Linked DNA regions of Homo sapiens: regions 2, 3, 4 and 5 are each linked to region 1. The links come from fine-mapping of genetic effects on gene expression. A gene starts in region 1. Each other region holds a variant in brackets. All regions are shown on one strand. Distances are from middle to middle.

Region 1 (4,120 bases):
AGGCGTCTAGAAAGTGCACTAACATTGGAAGAAAGGGTGATCAGGCCTCTAGTTCCTGTTCTGCTACCGATTAGCTGTGTGACCTTTAGTAAGTTAAGAATTCTCCCAAGGCATTCTATACAACCGAGAGGGGTGGGAGAAGAGATAGTGAGGAACTAGATTTCTAAGGTAGCCATTAAAATCCTGCTAATCCTAAACAGACAATTTTAGAGGATTCTTAAGATTATCTTTCTTATAAAGGAAGGACAGGCCAGAAAAGATAGCTGTTAAAGTCAATTGACAAAGTTAAATCATATTAATGTCCTTTGTGAGCTCCATGAATGCAGAAATGGTATGTTATTTATCTGTATGATCCAGTCTACTGGCACACATTACCTACTCAAAATGCTGGTGTGCTGAACTATACGTTCGTATTTGGGAATCAACTGCACTTTTATTGGAGCTTTCTTTATAGAAGTTATTTCTCAGATATATTTCTTTCCCTGTTGCATCATACACTTTACCTGTCCCCCATTTAATTCTCGCATTAAAGTAGTGAGATACGCACTATCATTTGCATATCAGGAAACTTAAGTCCAGGCTACCTGGCTCTTAGCTGGAGAACAGACTCCAACCGAGGTCTACCTTGCCTGAAAAATCTGTGCTCTTAGCAGGGCGCGGTGGCTCATGCCTGTAATCCCAACACTTTGCGAGGCCGAGGTAGTCGGATCACTTAAGGTCAGGAGTTCCAGACCTGCCTGACCAACATGGCGAAACCCTGTCTCTACTAAAAATACAAAAATTAGCCGGGCGTGGTGGCGCATGCCTGTAATCCCAGCTACTCGGGAGGCTGAAGCAGGAGAATCGCTTGAACCCCGGAGGCGGGAGGTTGCAGTGAGCAGAGATAGCGCCACTGCACTCCAGCCTGGGTGACAGAGCGAGGCTCCATCTCACAAAAAAAAAAAAATAAAAATAAAAATCTGTGCTCTTAACTACCCTGATTTTCACCTCCCGTTAACACTTGGCAAATACATAAAGACCTATCAGCATGCAGCTCCGTGTAACGTTATGATAATAAAAACATTTATTTGGGATGATACGGTCTGCTGAGATCAGAGCTGTGATCCTCTTTTCTCTCCCAGAACTGTAACCTCTGGGGAAAAGAAAGAAGTCTCATATATGTGCCTGGGGGGCTGACTGCCTGGGGAAACGAGGGGGAACCTCAGAAACTGAGAGGATAGCGGAAGGCAGCCGGCATCAAAAACATCAGCCATGGACGAGCAATTCTGCAAACTCTTTGCAATCTGCTGGGGAGCAAAATCGGTACCCAGACAAGTCTGTGGACATGTCTGGCACCGTTTTTGGTGCAGCCACCAAGTGCCTACGAACCCCGATCCCTTGCTCCTCCGGGCCTCACTTTATCTGAAACACGGAACGAAGCTATCTAAGACCTGCCGTCGTCCCTCGGGGCTGCTGGGGTGAGAGGAGGGGCGACACGGGACGGCCCCAGGGCAAGCGCCCCGGAAAAAGCGCTTCCAAGCCAGCCCTCCCGGGCTGGAGCGAGCAGGGAGGGGAGAGGGTGGTGGACCCGTTTTCCCTTCACCCGCTCCAACACACTCAAGGAAGAGAGAGAGAAAGACATCCTGCCACAGCCATACTCACTGCCGGACAACAGTCAGAGCGAAGCGAGCCATGTTCCCGGAGCCGCGTCCCGTCGGTGGCCCCGCGCCGCGCTGCCCCTGCACTGCGGGCTACCTCCCCCACACCACTTCCGCCAAGCAGCCGGCCGGCTCCGCCGCCATAGGCCGAGGCGGCCTCGCACGTCATCCCCGAAGGCCACTCAGGGCCGGGCGAGGCCGACGGGGCGGGGGAGACGAGGGAGCCACGGGGGCCCCGCCCAGGGCTGCGGCGCTTGCGCCCCTGCGCGCCGGCCTGTGATTGGCGCGCGGCAGGTGCGGGAGGCCCCGCCCGCGGAGTCCGCGGTAGGATTCCTTCCCTCGATAGCCGGCAGCCTGCGTTCGGGGCAGATAAGGAAGCCGGCGCACTGATTTGTGGTTGTTGCGATTGAGGCTGGAATGCAACCGTTCGTCTTATAGCTGGCCACTGTGATGAACCCCTCACGGGTGTACAGCGACCAACAGACTGTGTTCTATGAGGTCTGTTAGTCCCTAACCTTAGGGACGTAGCGTCGGCCAGGTCTGTAGACTTAGACCCACCCACCCCAACTCCGCCGGGACAGACGCCCTCCGTGACCAAACTTTAGTCGGGCTCCTTTGAGGCCTTTTCTATACTAGACGGCATCCTCGGCCTGCTGAGCCTGGTTTTACCAAAGAATCCTGCTAAGCCTGTTTATCAAGAGAGACCTCACTGTTGATGCTCTCTTCTAAGGCCCTTGATATCTAGTAAAGTTCCTCCTCCCCCTCCCCCAGATAGCTTACCACGTTCTGGTAATTTCCCATCTTCTCTTTCATCCCTTCCATCCCGCCCCCTGGCTATAAATCTCCACTGGTCCCGGTTGTATTCTAGAGTCGAATTCAGTCTCTCTCACCTATTGCAGTAGTCTTGAGTAAAGTCTTGCCGTTTTTAACAAGCCTCAGATGAATAATTTCTCTTTAATAGCCTTCAGAACGTTGAGGGAGTTGCTTCATGTTAGATATGAGTTCTAAATTTCTTTTCAAAGAATCAATATGTCAGTATGTTCAATTCTTTGCTTTTTACTTTTAAACTTAACTTCCTCCTAAAGCAACCTTCTCTTTTTTATTTATTTATTTATTTTTTTGAGATGGAGTCTGGCTCTGTCACCCAGGCTGGAGTGCAGTGGTGTGATCTCGGCTCACTGCAAGCTCCGCCTCCCGGGTTCACGCCATTCTGGCTCAGCCTCCCGAGTAGCTGGGACTACAGGCGCCTGCCACCACGCCCGGCTAATTTTTTGTATTTTTAGTAGAGACAGGGTTTCACCGTGTTAGCCAGGATGGTCTCGATCTCCTGACCTCGTGATCCGCCCGCCTCGACCTCCCAAAGTGGTGGGATTACAGGCGTGAGCCACCGCGCCCGGCCACAACCTTTTTCGATTACCTGCTGCACTCTGACTCCTTCCCATTACCTACTCCACCCTGACTCCTTCCCATTACCTACTCCACCCTGACTCCTTCCCATTACCTACGCCACCCTGACTCAGATTACCTGCTCTGTCATAACTGTTTTTCCCGCCAAACCACTCACCCCCATCACTCTCTTTAGATTAGCCAATCGGAATTAGTTTAGCCTGTGCGGTGGGGCACTACACAGCAGCAGGGGCCACGTGCGTCAGGGATAAGAACCCCTTCCCCTCCCTTGTCCAAGTGTGCGCTCACCATTGCTCCATCTGTAAGGACGCACCCTTCTATAGAAGTACCTTGCCTTGCTGAGAATTAAAAAGAAAATTTTATATTCGAGTGCTATTTCTTTTGTGGCACTGAAAGTTTATTTATAACATGAGCTTCTCTAACCCTGGGTTTTGTGACAGGTAAACTGGGATAGCAGTACCTAGCAATGTGACACAAGTAACAATAATGTTAGCTAGGTGACATTGTCTTCCATGCACTGTTACCTAAATTCTTGTATTTCATAATGCATTTATTTCCTTGAATCCCCACTTATATATGAAAAGATGTGTTTAGAGAAGAGATGAATGAGATACTTAGATTCATAGGCACACATTTCAAAACAGTCTTACATGTAATATCACATTTGGCCTTCTGAACAATTCTAAGGTAGACAGGATAGGCTACATTATCTTCACTTTAGAGATGAGAAATATGGCCGGGCATGGTGGCTCACGCCTGTAATCCCAGCACTTTGGGAGGCCAAGGCAGGTCAGGAGAATCTGCAGGTCAGGAGATAGAGACCATTTTGGCTAACACGGTGAAACCCCATCTCTACTAAAAATACAAAAAATTAGCCGGGCATGGTGGCACGTGCCTGTAGTCGCAGCTACTAGGGAGGCTGAGGCAGGAGAATCGTTTGAACCCGGGAGGCAGAGGTTGCAGTGAGCCGAGATTCCAACACTGCACTCCAGCCTGGGTGACAGAGCAAGACCCCATCTCAAAAAAAAAAAAAAAGAAATATGGCCGAGAGAGAGACAGCGATTTGTCTAGGCTCA
Region 2 (4,120 bases), 32 kb after region 1:
AGATGAGATGACGGACTGACTTGCCTGCGGTCTCGAAAAGCCAAGAGACTCAGCAGCAACTCCCAGGAGGGAAATTTCCACCACTGTCCATGTGAGATCAGTAACGGGGGACAAAGGGAGGTGGGAAAAGGCTGGAGCCGGTAGGGTGGTCAGCCCATCAGAGCAGGTCTATCAACATCGGGGGAAAAGGTTACAATGCCTGGGGGCAGGAGGAGGGGGGTGGCCGCTTCCAACTCCTGTCACTGACATTTTTGTCTCCAGGCATTGAGGAAGGGCTTGTCTTAAACTGGCTGAGAGTCCTATTTGTAAGGCAGCCTTAATTGGAGACATTCAGAAAAGGAGGAAAGCGTACCATTTCTATAAACGTTAAGTCCCGTCCACGATTTTCCTCTGGAGGATTAGAAAAGCATTCTTCATGCTGCACTGGAGGGAGGTTTTCAGTCTGTGTTCTGGAGTCCTCGTTTAAAAAGCGTATGTTTGGAGCCCGCATTTTAAAACCATATCTACGAACTATCTCAGAGGAGGACCCCGGATTTGCTCCGTCAGCATCTCCCTGCGCCATTTCTCTGAGCTGGGAACAAATGCCAGGGAAAATCCAGGTGGGCGGGCGAGGAGGCCGGCGAGCTGCAGCCGTGGGCTCTCTGAGGTTTAACCTGTCCCGTATCCCTCGTGCAGGCCTCAGCCATAGGCCTATAAACCACATGATCCCTTAACTCAATAAAAGCCCGCAGAGGGCATCTGAATCCCCCCGGACCATCCAGAGGGTGTCATCGTGAAGTGCCCAGCATTCTTCAGCCTCTCCATGGTGATGCATGAGGGCTCAGGGCCAACACCCCTCTCTCAGGTTGACTTTAAACCCCAGGGTTTTTTTTCAAACCAAAAGATCCCAGGAGCGGCAACAAGGGTGGAGTGGGAAGTTTCCAGGGGGCAGTCGGAGCCTGGGGGTTCTAGCCCCAGCTCAGCCACTGCCCACCCCGCTCCTGGCTGGTTACTTCAGTCCCTGTCCTGCCCGTGGAAAACGAAGGAATGGCCTCTCTGACCTCTTGGCACCATCCTGTCTCGGACGGGCTAGGACTGCAGCTTCCTGCTGATTGAATTCAGAGGCTCACTTGACCCTGGTCTCTCTCAAAACCTTTCTTCTCAGGAGCTCCAAATTCTGGCAACAGGAAGTTAACAGCCTCTGGGCCGTCCACAGGGCACACAGAATGGGGAAGCTCCGTAGCTAATAATAGTTTCTTGAGTTTGTATGGCACTTTGTCTTTTGAAAGCACTTTGTAATCCATTACTGCATTGAACAAAAGGGAAGAGAGAGCGGGGAGGGGTCGAGAGGTTTGCCAGGGACGGACACCGTTCTCACAGTGGGGCACCTCTTGTGTGTCTGCTCCATCCACTGCAGCTGAGTCCTGGCTCTCCTTTCTCCTCTGTGCGCCTTACAGCCTCAGCGTGTGAAAGCAGACACGGCAGCTCTTCGCTGCCGGGCAGAGGCAGCCTGGCAGCGTGTACAAATATGGCAATGAAGCAACAATTCAGACCCACTGAGAAGCCCACGCCATAAAGGAACATCGGTAAACAGCCCTCCCACCCCCACCCCCTTCATCTGCTTGCTGAGTTTTCTTC[CG/G]TATTTTCCCGTGCACAGCTTTTCAGAACCTTAAGAGGGGGTGTCACCTGCTGAACTTTGCACTCCCTTGGATGTCGATCTTAGGAAACAAACCAGAAAAATACCTCTGACACAACATAATCAAATCCGTCGTCTCCTTCCCTGAGCTGAGAAGAGACATCTGGACTTAGCCAAGAAGGTGGTGGCCACCTACCACGTCTGTGTTGGTGATCTTAGCCAGCAGCTCAGTCAGGGCATCACAAGTGAGCGAGCTCACTTCCTCATCCTGCTGGAGCCCACAGATGGCTGCTCCCACACTTCCAGTTGCGATCATCGACGGTGGGTACATGGCAAACTTAAAGTCTGCAAGGAATGAGAGGCAGAAGGTCAGGGCACAGAACGAATTTGGATCCTGGAGCTCCCGAGACTGCAGAGACTCAGAAACAGGACGGCAGCAGGTCAGCGGCGCGAGTGACCCCGTGCCCTACAGGCATGTCCTCCCTCGAGTTCTTTCACAAGGAGCCTGTGTTTATTTGCCATCACCATGGCTGTTCCAGATTAAACGAAGGAGACTGAGGCAGGGAAGGAAGACAGCTTATCTAAGCGCACACAATGAATGCACAGAGGATTCAAGGTCCCCAATCCCCAGATCCCAGTCATATTAAGCATGTCTGAGTTAACATTCTTGACCCTGGTGGGGGGAGCAAGGTGAGCGAGTCATAGTCTCCTCTAGAGGTGATGGTGGGAACAGAGCAGAGAATGCCTGAGACCAGTGCAGACAAGGTACCCCATGGGCCATGCAAGCAGGACAGACCAGGGGCTCCAGATGTGAGAAGGAGGGAAAGTACAAGGAGATGGGAGAAACGGGCAAAATCTATGCATAATGCTAATTCAGATGGGATCTTGTTATAGTCTCTGGACAGGCATTGAGGATTAATATGACCCCCACCCAAAAAAAAAAAAAAAAGGTTTGATCTAAAAAAGGAAATGAGAGAAGCAGCAATGCAGGGAGTGGGCGAGTGGGGGCTGAGTTCCACCCAGTTCCCAACCTCTGGCCCAACAGCAAGAACCCTCAGAACATTAGGGCAGAGGATTCTAACCCTAACATAGGGCTCTAACTAAGCACTGAAGATTAATCATTGCATCCGAATCAGATGGGTGACTCGGTTTCGATGTTATGACTCATGAGACTGAAGGCCCCATTTTATTGCTAAGAGAAAAAAATGTGACTTGCTACAGGGAAGTGCAGAATGAGGATAATAAATCAGAGGGGCTTGAACCCCGTCCACTGCCATGCTAGAGGGCTCCTCTTGGAAGACCAGCCCCCTTGTGTTCCTCCGAGCACTCCTTCAGAGGGGCTGGGTGGCCATGATCCAGCAGCTGCTTGGTCCATCGAGGGGAAATAAAGACAGCCAACTTCTCCTGTTACAGCTGCTGACAGCTACCAATGACCACCACATGCAGTACGCTACACATTACGTCCTGTTTAATTTACCCATCAGCCACAGAAGATGCACACGAGCGTCACCCTAATGGTATGGGTGAGAACCCTGAGACTTTTGAGAGTTTAAGTTGCCCCTGCTCGTGTTGACAGATATTAGGGTGGGTATAGTTGCAGCCATCACGCTAGTGACGGTCCTGGAGTGCAGCAAGTCTTCCAAAGCGTACTCTTTCTCGTTTTAGCATTGCTCTAGTGAGCTTACTGTGTGTAGACATGGAAGGGGCACGTGGGGGCAGGAGACACAGCATACAGGGAACCGTGGGTCACCCTTCAACTTACAGCAAAAACAATCAGGTTAAATCTACAAAAACCAGCCCCTCTCCTATTTCCCCTTCCTCCTGTACACACTCTATTACAAACACACTTTCTACAGCAGCTCTTTTAATGGTCAGCCCATTGCCCCAGCATCAAGTTAGCAGCATTGTTAGACACCGTGGATCCCTGAGCCAAGCACAGCCCTCCCCTCCCATCATGAACGCAGAGCAAACCTGGCCATCTGCCTGTCTCCTTGGCTTTTTCTCCATTGCCCTCTCACCATCTCCACCTCTTGAGGGACGTATATAATGGTGCTGCGCCCACGCCTGCTGTCCACCCGCCCCTCCTACGCCTTCTCTGTCGCCATGAACAGTGTGACAAAGCCAGCCTCCCTGCCTCTTGCTCTGCTGTAGGTCTCTTCCACATGGGTCACAGGAGAGTGTTTCTCTGCCCAATAACCTCGTTAGCTCCCCCCTGTGACATTCATAACACAAGCGGGGCAGCCGGCCCATGGCCCTGGGCCCACAAAGGCCCGGGTGGGAGCATCTGCCAGGGAAGAGGCAGGCAAGTATCCCCGGCCCTCCCTTCCCTCTGCCATAGGCCTCAGACCGGGAAGCACACCTCACACATGCCCATCTCTGCTGTCCCACTGCTAGCAAAACCAACTCTTATTATTGGCATACGAATGAACTTCTGGAAGCCAGCAGGCATAGGGGGAACAGGTGCACCGGTTGCACAGGGAGACTCTACCTCCCTTTTTGTTTTAC
Region 3 (4,120 bases), 32 kb before region 1:
CTGAGAGCACACACCACAAACCAATTGGGAAAGAACAGCCTTTACAATGGTGTTGGGATAACTGTTTCAACCACATGAAAAAAAAAATTAAATTCTTACCTTATACTATAAAAAGCAAATTTCAATTTCAAGATTTGACATTCAGAAGTTCTCAAAAACTGTAAGAAGACATTACTGTATGACCTCATGGTAGAGAAGTCTTCTTAAAGATACACACCAAAAAAACCCCATAAAGGATAAGGTATATTGGTTTGTCTTAAAAATTAAGAACACATATTAAAAAAATGCATCATAGGCCAGGCACGGTGGCTTATGCCTGCAATCCCAGCACTTTGGAAGGCCAAGGCAGGTGGATCACCTGAGGTCAGAAGTTCAAGACCAGCCTGGCCAACATGGCGAAACCCCGTCTCTACTAAAAAAAAAAAAAAGGCCAGGCGTGGTGGTGCATGCCTGTAGTCCCAGCTACTCAGGAGGCTGAGGCACAAGAATTGCTTGAACCCGAGAGGTGGAGGTTGCAGTGAGCCAAGATCACGCCATTGCACCCCAGCCTGGGCAACAGAGAGAGACTCTGTCTCCAAAAAAAAAAAAAAAGAAAAAAAGCAAAGAAAATAAAAACTGAATATACCTAAATGCCCACTAATAAACAAAAATGTGCTATATTTAATAGAATAGAGTGGTTATAATTAACTAGATCTATATATATCAACACAGAGATGCCTCCAAGACATAAGTAAAAATAAAGAACACAGATGGCTTGATATTTATTTTTAAAGCACCAAAACAGTACCATCTCCTTCCAGACACTAGGTGAAAATATAAGGAACAGATGAACATTGCAAGCAGATGAACAGGTGAACATATACACAGACTCACTGCAGTGGCTGCCTCTGGAGGGAACAGGACTGTGAGAGCTGGTTAAAGAGAACTCTACTTTTATCTTTATGTTTTGTTTCTTTAAAAAAAAAAGTGGAAAGATGACTTCAGTATGGTGGGAATGGAGATAATTATTGTCTGTCCTTTTTGCTTATTTTTCAAATTTTTATTTACAGTATACTTCCTCTGATGCTCAAACACGTGCCCTGTTTCAATACTGGTAGAAAACTGGTAGTGCTAGACACACTAAGAACAATATAATACTGAATTTTACATATGATTTAAAATGATGTCAAAGTAAATTTTGACTATATGTGACTATAGCCTTAACTGACAACTTTAGTATTAACCCTCTTTAAAGTTGAGACTCACAGCATTTAGCAACATGGTGACTTAAAAGCGAACTACATGTAGAACAGTTTCTTCATTTAGATAAAGATTTCTGAAAGACCAATCTTGTGTATAAAATTAAGTTAATCAAAATCCCTTTTCTCCAGTGCCATCTGGTGGAAAGAAGAGGCAACCTCACCTGTACCTGCCACAAAATAACCACAGCTGTGGTTATCAGAGCAACATTCTCTCCCCCCCAACCACCCCGCCTTCCCTGCCCGCAGAGCACCCTCTGTCATCCCCTCTGTCACCTAGGCTGGAGTGAAGTGGTGCGATCTCGGCTCACTGCAACCTCCACCTCCCGGGTTCAAGCGATTCTCCTGCCTCAACCTCCCAAGTAGCTGGGATTACAGGCGCCTGCTACCACGCCTGGCTTTTTTGTATTTGTAGTAGAGACAGGGTTTCACCATTGTTGGCCAGGCTGGTCTAGAATTCCTGACCTTGTGATCCGCCCGCCTCAGCCTCCCAAAGTGCTGGGATTACAGGTGTGAGCCACTGGGCCCGGCCCAGAGCACCATTCTTTACAAAGAAGGCCCCTCTTTTATTCTGATTACTGTGTGGTGTTCTGTTAACTGTTTACTTTCTTTAGAGCCTTCCTCAAACTGGAAATTCTTCAGCCTACAGGTTAGATAAGAAGCAAGTGGATATTCTTCATTTTTTTGGCTTTCCTGGTTTCCATTGACTTGACTTTGGCAAGGCATTATTTAGAAAAGGCTGTTCTTCTATCTTCTGCTCCAAGATTCTTTCTTTACTGTATTTAAATCAAATGTTTTAACTTCTTCCCCCAGACCATTCTGCAATCATAATCTGTATTCATCCACATTTCAAGCCCTCTAGAATAAAAAATTCCAATAGTTGATTTATACGTAAAACATGTTAGTGTTATTTTGCTTTACATAAACTTATAAGGATTTTTTATTTAAAGGATTTAAAAATATAACACAGTCAATATAAACATGTACTGGGAATTATAAACCATTCTTTCTTCTAAGCACTGGATGAGATACTAAAAACATACAGTATCTTACCAATAGCCATTAAAATAGGCTAAAATGAAAAAGAAACCGTTGTAACAAGGTTACTAATCCCCCAACTTTCAATGCTGAGTTCCTTCATCATCCATGTGCAATCCAGAGATGACATCTAGCAGGGTGGTAAAATTATTCTGGAAAATGCCAACTGTACTT[G/A]GACAAAATAAGTTAATTCTATATGGTTGTCCATTAAAGTTTTATGTGGCTATGGTTCCACTGGAGCTAAAAATTGGCTTTTAACTGTTTCCAAATCAGAACTAGCAGAGGAGAGAAGTAAATAAAGCCAATGGCACTCCCTTCAGAGGCTCAAAATGGTTAGATTTTGATGCAGATTTAACCTTAGCGAGTTTCAGTCAGTCCATTTAGATGATCCTGTAGGTTCATACAAATACACTGAACCGTTGGTTTAACTTCTCTTCCTTCCTCAAAGTTTATGATAAAGAGACTCATCCCTGTATTGGGAGTGACTGACATAAGTTCAGATCTGCTCAGAGTGGCTGGTAAGGAACACTTAAGGTCAGTCAGAAAATAATCAAACAGACTTCTCATGTAAGCACCGTGACTCACAACTAAGACACTGGCTGCTAATCCTGGAATACCGCTGTCTGAATTAACTTTAGAGCTGTGATTTTTTCCTAAAGGAAATATCTCTGCCAAAGAAGTTTCCAGACAGTTGCTTGGAGATCCTTGGGAAAACTGTTCTTTTTGATCCGCTTCTTTCAGGATTAGTTGACAAAGAAATTCAAAAAAGTCTATTCCACGCATTTTCACCTACAAGAAAAGAAATAAAAGTCAAAATAAAGTGACATTAATGACTTCCTTAAAACGTTAACATAGAACATAACTGACTGGATTTTTTTCTAATATTGAATGCCAAGTACTACACAAGCAGAAGAATATCAATCTACATTTCTATTCGTTCAATCAGTAGTTTCATGGACATATATAAGTATCCACCACATTTCTGGAATTACAAAAGCACCATGGAGACCAAGATGAAGAAGATCCAATTCCCAATTCCTGAGTTCAAAGCACTCACGGTCTAGTTAGGGAAATCTACAAGCCAACAGAAACTCATAAAACAGTGCTAACCAGGAAGCTGTCTCTGGCACTTCAGTGCCACTGGAACAACAGCAGCAACAAATCCTTCCCTTACTAAAGTAATGGAAAGTATTTTCAAGAAAATTAAGATAAAGATTAAGGAGGTGGTGGTGGGTTAGGGGGAATCACCAATATGCAATTCGAAGCAGAACACTCCAAAGAAATGCAAGCACAGGGATGCCACCATGAACAGAGCTGAGGAGGCAGCAGAGGCTTGAAGACTTCATGTTTTGAGTTATTTCACCTCGAGTGACTTGCCGATCACCCTCTTTGAACTCCACTCCCACCACTAAGCCACTGCTTCATATTCAAAGGTCTTTTTTAGAAGTACCATCTAATAACACCTTTCCTTAAGTCCATTATCAATAATGACAAAGGCAACTGAACAGTAAATAAGATTTTAAATAGAAAAGAATAATTTGCTAAGTAAATAGATAATTTAAAATGGAAAAGAGAATGAACCAAGCAACTTTCAAACTGCTTAGCTAAAATTCCAAAACATCTAATTTTGAGTCTTAATTCAACCATTCTGACATCGGCAGCGCCACATACCTGGTCCAGCGTCTCTCCTCCGGGCGGTGTAAACACAGGGCACTCTTCCCTGGCTGCTTTGGCCATGGCCCTCAGCTCACTTAGCGCTTTGCCTTCTACAACCCCGTATTTCTGAAACAGTCCAATAGATAACAGTTTCTCAAATGAAATTGCAATATAACAATTAAGTTTAT
Region 4 (4,120 bases), 710 kb before region 1:
ACTGCTGGGCTATGCCAGTTTTCACCTCGTTATGGACATTTGTAAAGATTCAGGCTCACCCAGGGCCTTCCTTTGGGGGAACTCTGAGCCCCTGAGCCCATCATCTCAGCTTTCACAGGAAAGAGGAGACAGGCTAGGATGAGAAGTCCGAATCTCTGAAGGAAAGGGCAGCAATACATGGTGATGGGTGTGAATTCTGACTCTGCAAAACTTACTGGCTGTGTGACCTGGGGCAAAACACTTAGCTTCCCTGTCCCTTCACTTCCTTCTCTGTAAAATGGCACTAATCCTATTACTACTATATTAATAGTAGTAATATAACAGAGTTGCTGTAAAGATTAAATTAGTTAATATTTGTAAACTGCTCAGACCAGTGTCTGGCACAAAACAGGCCCTATGTGTTTATTAATAAATGAAATTTTAAAGATAGATTTCATGCCAGGAAGAGGGCCCAACACATTCCTCTTTAGAAAGACTATAAATAGAGCCAACCAAAGGACACAGGAATTTCCTGTGAGTTAGGAAGCTGTAGGGGCTATGCAGCGAGGCAGAGGGAAAGATCACAAGCTTTGGAGTAGAAAAATCTGGGTTTGGATCCCATGACACTATTTATGCTCTGTGTTACCTAGAGCAAGTCCTATAACTTTTCTGAGCCTCATGTCTCTCATTTGAAAGAGGAGAAGATGGCATCCAGCCCGCCAGGTTATCACCCAGATTGATGATACATGAAAAGTAACTGGGACCCCACAAGCCCCAGTCAGGGTTTGCTCCGTTGCCATCATTCTTATCATTGTCCATCTACCGAGTAGGAAAACACAGGAAGACCATGTAACCTTTGTCAGCTACTCTCTCCACTCCAGTTTTCATGCAGGTACACATACTGCCTCAGGACATCTTTCCTTTTTTTTTTTTTTTTTCTTGAGATGGAGTAGTCACCCAGGCTGGAGTGCGGTGGTGCGATCTTGGCTCACTGCAACCTTGCCCTCCCTGGTTCAAGCGATTCTCTTGCCTCAGCTTCCCGAGTAGCTGGGACTACAGGCGTGTGCCACGACACCCAGCTAATTTTTTGTATTTTTAGTACAGACGCGGTTTCACCGTGTTAGCCAAGATGGTCTCAATCTCCTGACCTTGTGATCAGCCCGCCTCGGCCTCCAAAATGCTGGGATTACAGGCATGAGCCACCACGTCTGGGTCATTTTTTTTTTTCTTAAGAGATGAGGTCTCACTCTTGTTGCCTGGGCTGAACTGCAGTGGCCTTGTCCCCATTTCTTACTCCAGGTTTTCAGTGAGTCTGTGAAGCTTGTGTACATTGCAAGGAGGCTGTATTGGTCAGGGTGCAAGCAGAAACGCAGAACCTCTAAGAGGTATGTGTAGTAAATAATCAATTACAGGGACTCGACCCTATGCAATCCCGGGAGCTGGTTGAGAGTCTCTATAGGGCTACTGTCTTTCTGTCAGATGCTGGAACTCCAGGGCCCCAGGGAATGCATCAAGAAGGGAAAGTGGGAACCAGAGCCGCAGCCGGTGCTGGCATTGGTGCTGGAACTGAGGCTGGGACCGCTGCCGGGGCTGGGGCTGGCGTGGCTGGAGGAGCACTTGCTGGTACCGCCGGTGTGGCCATCTTGTGGAGAAAGAAAGCCTGGGAGGACCATGGCAGTGATGTTCACACCTCTGACAGTGAAATATGTATACTGTGACACTGAACGCATTGGAGTTGACCTGATCGTGAAGACCTGCTTTAGCCCCAACAGAGTGATTGGACTCTCAGGTGACTTGCAGCAAGTAGGAGGGGCATCCGCTCGCATCCGGGATGCCTTGAGCAGAGTGTTGCAATATGCAGAGGATGTACTCTCTGGAAAGGTGTCGGTTGGCCGCTTCCTGGTGAACCTGGTTAACCAAGTACCCAAAATAGTTCCCGATGACTTCGAGATCATGCTCAACGGTAACATCAACGACCTGTTGATGGTGACCTACCTGGCCAACCTCACACAGTCACAGATTGCCCTCAGTGAAAAACTTGTAAACCTGTGAATGGAGCCCAAGCAGTACGCCTGCTGGTCTAGGTCTTAACCCCAGGACTCAGAAGTGAAGGAGAAATGGGTTTTTCGTGGTCTTGAGTCACACTGAGACAGTCAACTGTGTGTGACTCTAATAAACATGGCCTACTTTTTGTAA[A/C]TTAAAAAAAAAAAGAAGGGAAAGTGGATGTAATGTGGGAGAAGGCAAAGACAAGCTGGGCCCCTCAGGGCAGAATGGAGCCCATATCTCTGTCCTCACTGCCTCCAACCCTGATGACGTGCTTGTCCTAAAGGGGAAGGTGGCTCCCTCTGTCATGGAGCTAAAACACATACCTGGTCCAGGAATCAGAGAAGCTGGTGAAGGATTCAGAGAAAAGCAGAACATGTGCAGGCCCACCTGCCGCCACCCCAAGGGCATGAGTCACAGATCAGTGACAATGTGCCTGAGCTGCAGAAGCACCTGCCCCACCTTCTGACAGTGAAAAGTAACACGGCTGCCACTTCACTTTTGTCCTTCAAATTTCAAGCAAAAATGTCTCTTATTCCCCACTCTAACTGGGAACTTGCAGGGAAAAGAATTCTGGGAAACATATTTCAGCCTGGCCCACTTGACACATTACAAAGCCGCCACAGCAATTGTTGAAAAACCTAGACGAGCCCCTTACAGTGAGTTCACATATTCACAAGCTGCAAGGTTCTCAACTCTAATATAAAAACATAACTTTTTTTTATAACTGTTTCATCTATTTTGTGCCACATTCAGTCCCTGCAAAGGCTCTTCAAAGAAAGAGGCTGTATAGTGTATACTGAGGTACTAGTCATAGACATTTAGGTGTCTAATTGAAGTGTAACAGTGATTTTTTTTTAGGGAACATGTAGGAAATGTGTTTCTACACTAAGCTAAGAATCCTTGCTATCTGAGGCAGGGCTAAAAGGCATCCGAATTCACAATAGAGTGGAGGAGAAAGTCATAAACATCATCAGTGACCTTGGGGCCAGTTGTAGAAACCAGGAAATGGTGGAGCAGAAGGACCAGGAGGTACCAGTAATGAGGAATGAGTTACAGAAACATGACTGTAGGCAATTATGGAGACCGCTGGACAGTCTTTAGAAGTCTGCTGTCTTCAGGTCTGATTCTGGAGCTCTGAAAGACGCACCTGTGTTTCGTTTTTGGCTCTTTGAGAATCTGAATACGCATACATACCGTTTTTTTCCTCTTCTTTTAAAAGTAGTCTATTTTTACCTTTCTTTCCTCTGCATCTTCTCCCTTTTCCCCTCTTCTCATCCTGATCCCATCTTGATATTTTGCAACCAGAGAACTGAATGGTAACTTTGATTGCCACAGAAGCACTATATTTGTAAAAGAAAGAGGGGAGGCAAAGACACAGGATGGCGGTAGATAGCAGAATATAGAAGCCTAGTATCAATTTTTTTAGTAGGATAAGTTACATTACAAGATAGGATTCAGTTCCAGGGTGTGCGAACTGCCCTATAAGAAGAAATTATTTTCGTCTTGACCCAGTCCATTAGGACACAGAGCCCCAGATAGGGAGTCAAGAAGCCGAGGTCCCAACCCTAGCTCTGTCAATATATTAATTCTTGACAAGTCTCTTCATTTATGGAGTGCATTTTGTTCAATGACTAATAAGAGTCATTAGATATTAAGGTCAACTGAAACTTGATAGAGCTGTAGTTCAAAGATAGCTACCACTCGGTACTATCAATGTACTGTTGCTATAGATGTGAAGACTATTATTGGCCTCCCCTGACAAACAGTCTCTGCTTGGCCAAACTTTAATCAGGCTTCGAACCTTCTCCTAGGTCCATCTGTGTACTCCTAAGTCTAGTTTTAGCAAATAATCTCCCATTCTTGATACCTGATCACCCTTCACTTCTGATAAGGTTCTTCGTCCTCCACTATGTTGTAACCAAAACACAGGTCAGTTTCTTGCCACATGCAGAATCCAATGAACAAGAGTAAGACTTGGTACAAAAATAGTGAATTTATTCCGAAGTGAGCTTGGGGAAGGGGCACAAAACTTCTTGCCTTTAAATGTGCTGCTTCACCTCTGGAGCAGATAACAGACACTTTTACAAGGTAAGGG
Region 5 (4,120 bases), 78 kb before region 1:
AATACTACAGAGGAAAGAAAGAAGGAAGGAAGGGAAAGAAGGGAAGGAAGGAAGGGAAAGAAGGGAAAGGAGGGAAGGAAGGAAGGAAGGAATAGAGGGAGTGAGAGAGGAAGAGAAAAAGCAAAGTAAAAGCAAAGAAGGAATCACAGCATGCAAAAAACAAAGAACCCATTCTGGAAGAAGACATAATCCAAGGAAAAGACGGAAATTCTTCACAAGTGTTTTACAATAGAAAATAAATCTTTAAAGGAACATGAATTTGATTAAAATGAAAACTCAAAGACAAGATGATAAAACAATAGAATAAGAACAAAAGAGAGAAAGACAGAGACAGAGAGGCAGAGAGAGAACCATAGAGGGGCGGAGCGGGGGAGAGAGGAGGAGAGGAAAATTATAGTGCTAAGGAAAGAAATAAGGAGGCAAAGCAATAAATAAAGAAGAAGCAGAACAATACACTTCATGTGAATGTATTTGCCAGTAGAAAGGCTTTAGCTAGTGCCAGTGGATGCAGAAGACAAAGACAAGAACTAAAAGCAATTAGAGAAAAAAACAATAAATCTAAAGGATGGTGAGAGACCACACAACATAAGGTATTTCACGTCCCTGAGGTAAAGAAGCCAAGACATGGACTAGAAACATTAAAAGTATATAATACAAGAATTTTCCTGGAAATACAGAAAGAATCAAATCTACACATACTGGTTTCACGAAAAACTAACATGGAAGCTTCAACACCAAGATATATCCAGTTAATGTACTGAACTTCAAGAATTCCTCAAGCATCTTGAAGATGATATAAAATGTTAAATTAATTACTATAACTCAAGTATTAAAAAAAAAAAGAGAACAGTGCCTGGCACTTAGTAAGGCCTTCCTAAAAAACAAACAAAAGAACAAAAGCTACGCACAAAAGCAATTAATGTACAAGGAGCAAAACCAAGCCGACCTCAGACTTCCAAAAGCAATATTTAATGTCAGAAAACAATGTAGTGATATTTACAAAGTTTCGAGGAAAAGAAAATGGTACCCAAAATTATAACCATCAAGAAGTCATTTAACACAAAGGCAAAAAGAAAAAATAATTTCTAAGTTCTTTCTCTAAAAAGATAGCACCCAGGAATCACACTTGGAGGAAAAATACCTACTTGATTATAAGATTTTATATATTAAACTATAAATCCAAATAAAAATTCAAGAAAGGAGAAACAGTCAAAAAAGTACTGGTGGTAAGAACTGAAACTATTAGATGCTGAAGGAAGACTGAACAATTGTGGAAATTATGATTACAGAACAAATTTCAACAACATAAACTTTGACAATTTTCTGGTAACTTTTGACAGTGTAAAATTAACAATATAATTAACAAAATTAGGGAGTTGTGAGGAGAGAGGACATGTGAGAAATGCTTATTATCTTATTTTTCATAGCGCTTACCCAATTTAAACTGTCTAAATAAGTTTCCAAAAATATATAGCCAATTATTCTAATCTCTTAATGGTTCTCACAATATTTTCATACCTGTTTTCTTAAATGTAGAAGGATTTTAT[TAAAAC/C]AATACCTCTTGTGCAAAGGACACATTTAATAGAAAAGACAAATTTAACTAAATTTCACCAGTTCCTTCAGTTTGATTTCCATTTCTTTTTCTTCTGTTAAATCCAAGTAACATTTAATTAAACATTTGTTTTAAAAAATAGCACAAATAGTATGATCCAATTTTTATAAGTGTGTCTGTTAACATTTTTACCTAATATTCTATCCATAAACATATATATATATGAAATAATGTTCATTCAAGGGTGGATATTTATGGGTGGTACTATGGTTTGAATGTGTTCCCCAGAAAGCATAGGCTGGAAACTTAATCCCCAGTGCAACAGTACTAGGAGGGCTCCATTCTCATAAATGGGTTAATGCCAATTATAAAAAAGCTTGAGGTGTGAGTTCAATCTCTCCCTCCCTCCATCCTTCCTGTCTTCCCTTCCTTTCTTCTTCCTCCCTTCCTCCTCTCTCTCTCTCTTTCCCTCTCTTTTTCTCTCTCCCTCCCCCTGCCCCATGCTCTCTTGCCCTCTTGCCTTTCTGCCTTCTACCATGGAATAACACAGCAAAACAACCCTCACCAGATGCAGGCTCCTCAACCTTGGACTTACCAAACTCCAGAATTATAAGAAATAAATACCTGTTTTTTATAAATTAACCAGTCTCGGGTATTCTGTTATAAGAGAACAAAACGGACTAACAAAGGCACTGAGTGGTTTTTTTTTTTTTTTTTTTTGAGATGGAGTCTCCCTCTGTCATTCAGGCTGGAGTGCAGTGGTGCGATCTCGGCTCACTGCAACCTCCACCTCCCAGGTTCAAGGGATTCCCCTGCTTCAGTCTCCTGGGTAGCTGGGACTACAGGCGTGTGCCACCACGCCTGGCTAATTTTTTGTATTTTTAGTAGAGAAGGGGTTTCACCGTATTAGCCAGAATGGTCTACATCTCCTGACCTCGTGATCCACCCACCTCGGCTTCTCAAAGTGCTGGGATTACAGGCGTGAGCCACCGCGCCCAGCCAAGTGAGTTTTTTTTTTACTTTGTTCTTTTTACTCTTTTTTCTTAAGGTATTATGAGTATTATTTTCACAAAAAATATTATTTAATAAATAAAGATCAGAAGAAAATAAACTAAGCTGTTATCAAATAATCATTAATGTTCAGAAAGATTATGGATTTTTTTACCCCTCTACTTTTCTATATTTTTCAGAGTTGTTCATCTTTCAGATGTCAGCTTAGATGTCATCATTTCTTCCTGATTCTTCACCGATTCCCCTGTCTGGATAGGACCCATTGCCACACCTTCTTATGGGGCTGAATTCTACCCCTATTATAACATTAATCACAGTTTAATGTTACTTATAGAATTGTCTTTCTTCCTTTCTACACATCAATCACTTTGAGAGCGGAGGCCACATCTGTCTTTTTCTTTTCATTGCTAAAGTATCACAAGGCAACTCTACCCAATACATATATACTAAATGAATATATATGCTGAAGTTGTATCACAGAGCAGAGACTACAGCAGCACACAGCAACTGCTTTCTTTTTTGGGGGCGGGGGGGTCAGAGTTTCTCTTTGTCACCCGGGCTGGAGTGCAGTGGTGCGATCTTGGCTCACTGCAACCTTCACCTCCTGGATTTAAGCAATTCTCATGCCTCGGCCTCTCGAGTAATCGGAACTACAGGCGTAAGCCACCACAACCAGCTAATTGTTGTATTTTTAGTAGAGATGGGGTTTCACCATGTTGGCCAGGCTGGTCTCAAACTCCTGGCCTCAAGTGATCCACCTTCCTTGGCCTCCCAAAGTGCTGGGATTATAGGTGTGAGCCACTGTGCCCAGCCTAAATATATATTAAGTGAATATATATATTGAAATTGTATCACAGAACAAAGACAACAAACAGCAGCACACGGCAACTGCTTTTTATTTTCTAAGTCGAATCCTCTGGTTTTGCCAAACCCGTCAGGCTATAAGGTACATGGGCCAGGCATGGTGGCTCATGCCTGTAATCCCAGCACTTTGGGAGGTCAAGGCAGGTGGATCACTTGAGCCCAGGAATTCTAGACAACCTGGCCAACATGGCAAAACCCCGTCTCTACTAAAAATACAAAAATTTGCTGGCTGTGGTGGTGCACACCTGTGGTCCCAGCTGCTCGGGAGGCTGAGGTAGGAGGACAATCTGAGCCTGGGGAGGGAGATGGAAGCTGTAGTGAGCCATGATAGCACCATCCTGAGCAACAGTAAAAACTTGTCTCAAAAAAAAAAAGTTACATGGACATTTTAAGGAGGAAATCATTTTTAAACTCAAAATGTAGTTCCTAGTTTTCCATTTCCCTGATTGAAAAGACAGTCATGAATTATCCTATAAACACTCCCGAAACCGACCCAAATAATTTTGGAAAAATGGAAGTAAATAAATGAAGCAATACTTCTCCAAAAAATTTCTTTTGGTGGTCTGATGATTACAGCATTTTTGAGTTTTTTAACTAATTATCTTGGAACATCACTCTATGTCCCTTCCTATTATTGTCTATTCCAGACTTCAAAAGCATGTCTGTACTCTGTATTTTAATTTTCTCATTCCT

Evidence for each region.
Region 2: its variant is fine-mapped to the expression of TIGAR in whole blood (TOPMed, PIP above 0.99).
Region 3: its variant is fine-mapped to the expression of TIGAR in whole blood (TOPMed, PIP above 0.99). The same link has a PIP of 0.9 or more in aorta, blood mononuclear cells, esophagus mucosa, esophagus muscle, hypothalamus and nucleus accumbens.
Region 4: its variant is fine-mapped to the expression of TIGAR in coronary artery (GTEx, PIP 0.94).
Region 5: its variant is fine-mapped to the expression of TIGAR in whole blood (INTERVAL, PIP 0.91).

Annotation. Positions count from the first base shown.
Region 1 is chr12:4,318,825-4,322,944 of GRCh38, reverse strand. TIGAR (TP53 induced glycolysis regulatory phosphatase) reads right to left here and starts at 1,732. Exons shown (of 6, transcript NM_020375.3): 1 at 1,642-1,732. The coding sequence starts at 1,673. RefSeq lists a silencer at 1,642-2,021 and an enhancer at 1,487-2,140.
Region 2 is chr12:4,286,682-4,290,801 of GRCh38, reverse strand. It overlaps CCND2 (cyclin D2), which reads right to left. Exons shown (of 5, transcript NM_001759.4): 4 at 1,812-1,960. Among named protein-coding and RNA genes, the nearest start is that of CCND2-AS1, 13 kb to the right of the region's middle. The variant CG/G (reference allele first, on the strand shown) is at 1,618.
Region 3 is chr12:4,351,205-4,355,324 of GRCh38, reverse strand. It overlaps TIGAR (TP53 induced glycolysis regulatory phosphatase), which reads right to left. Exons shown (of 6, transcript NM_020375.3): 5 at 3,948-4,058; 6 at 1-3,065. The coding sequence ends at 2,634. Among named protein-coding and RNA genes, the nearest start is that of FGF23, 26 kb to the left of the region's middle. The variant G/A (reference allele first, on the strand shown) is at 2,451.
Region 4 is chr12:5,030,460-5,034,579 of GRCh38, reverse strand. It overlaps the pseudogene LOC390282. Among named protein-coding and RNA genes, the nearest start is that of KCNA5, 11 kb to the left of the region's middle. RefSeq lists enhancers at 1-167, 1,028-1,527. The variant A/C (reference allele first, on the strand shown) is at 2,176.
Region 5 is chr12:4,397,266-4,401,385 of GRCh38, reverse strand. No RefSeq gene overlaps it. Among named protein-coding and RNA genes, the nearest start is that of FGF23, 20 kb to the right of the region's middle. The variant TAAAAC/C (reference allele first, on the strand shown) is at 1,548.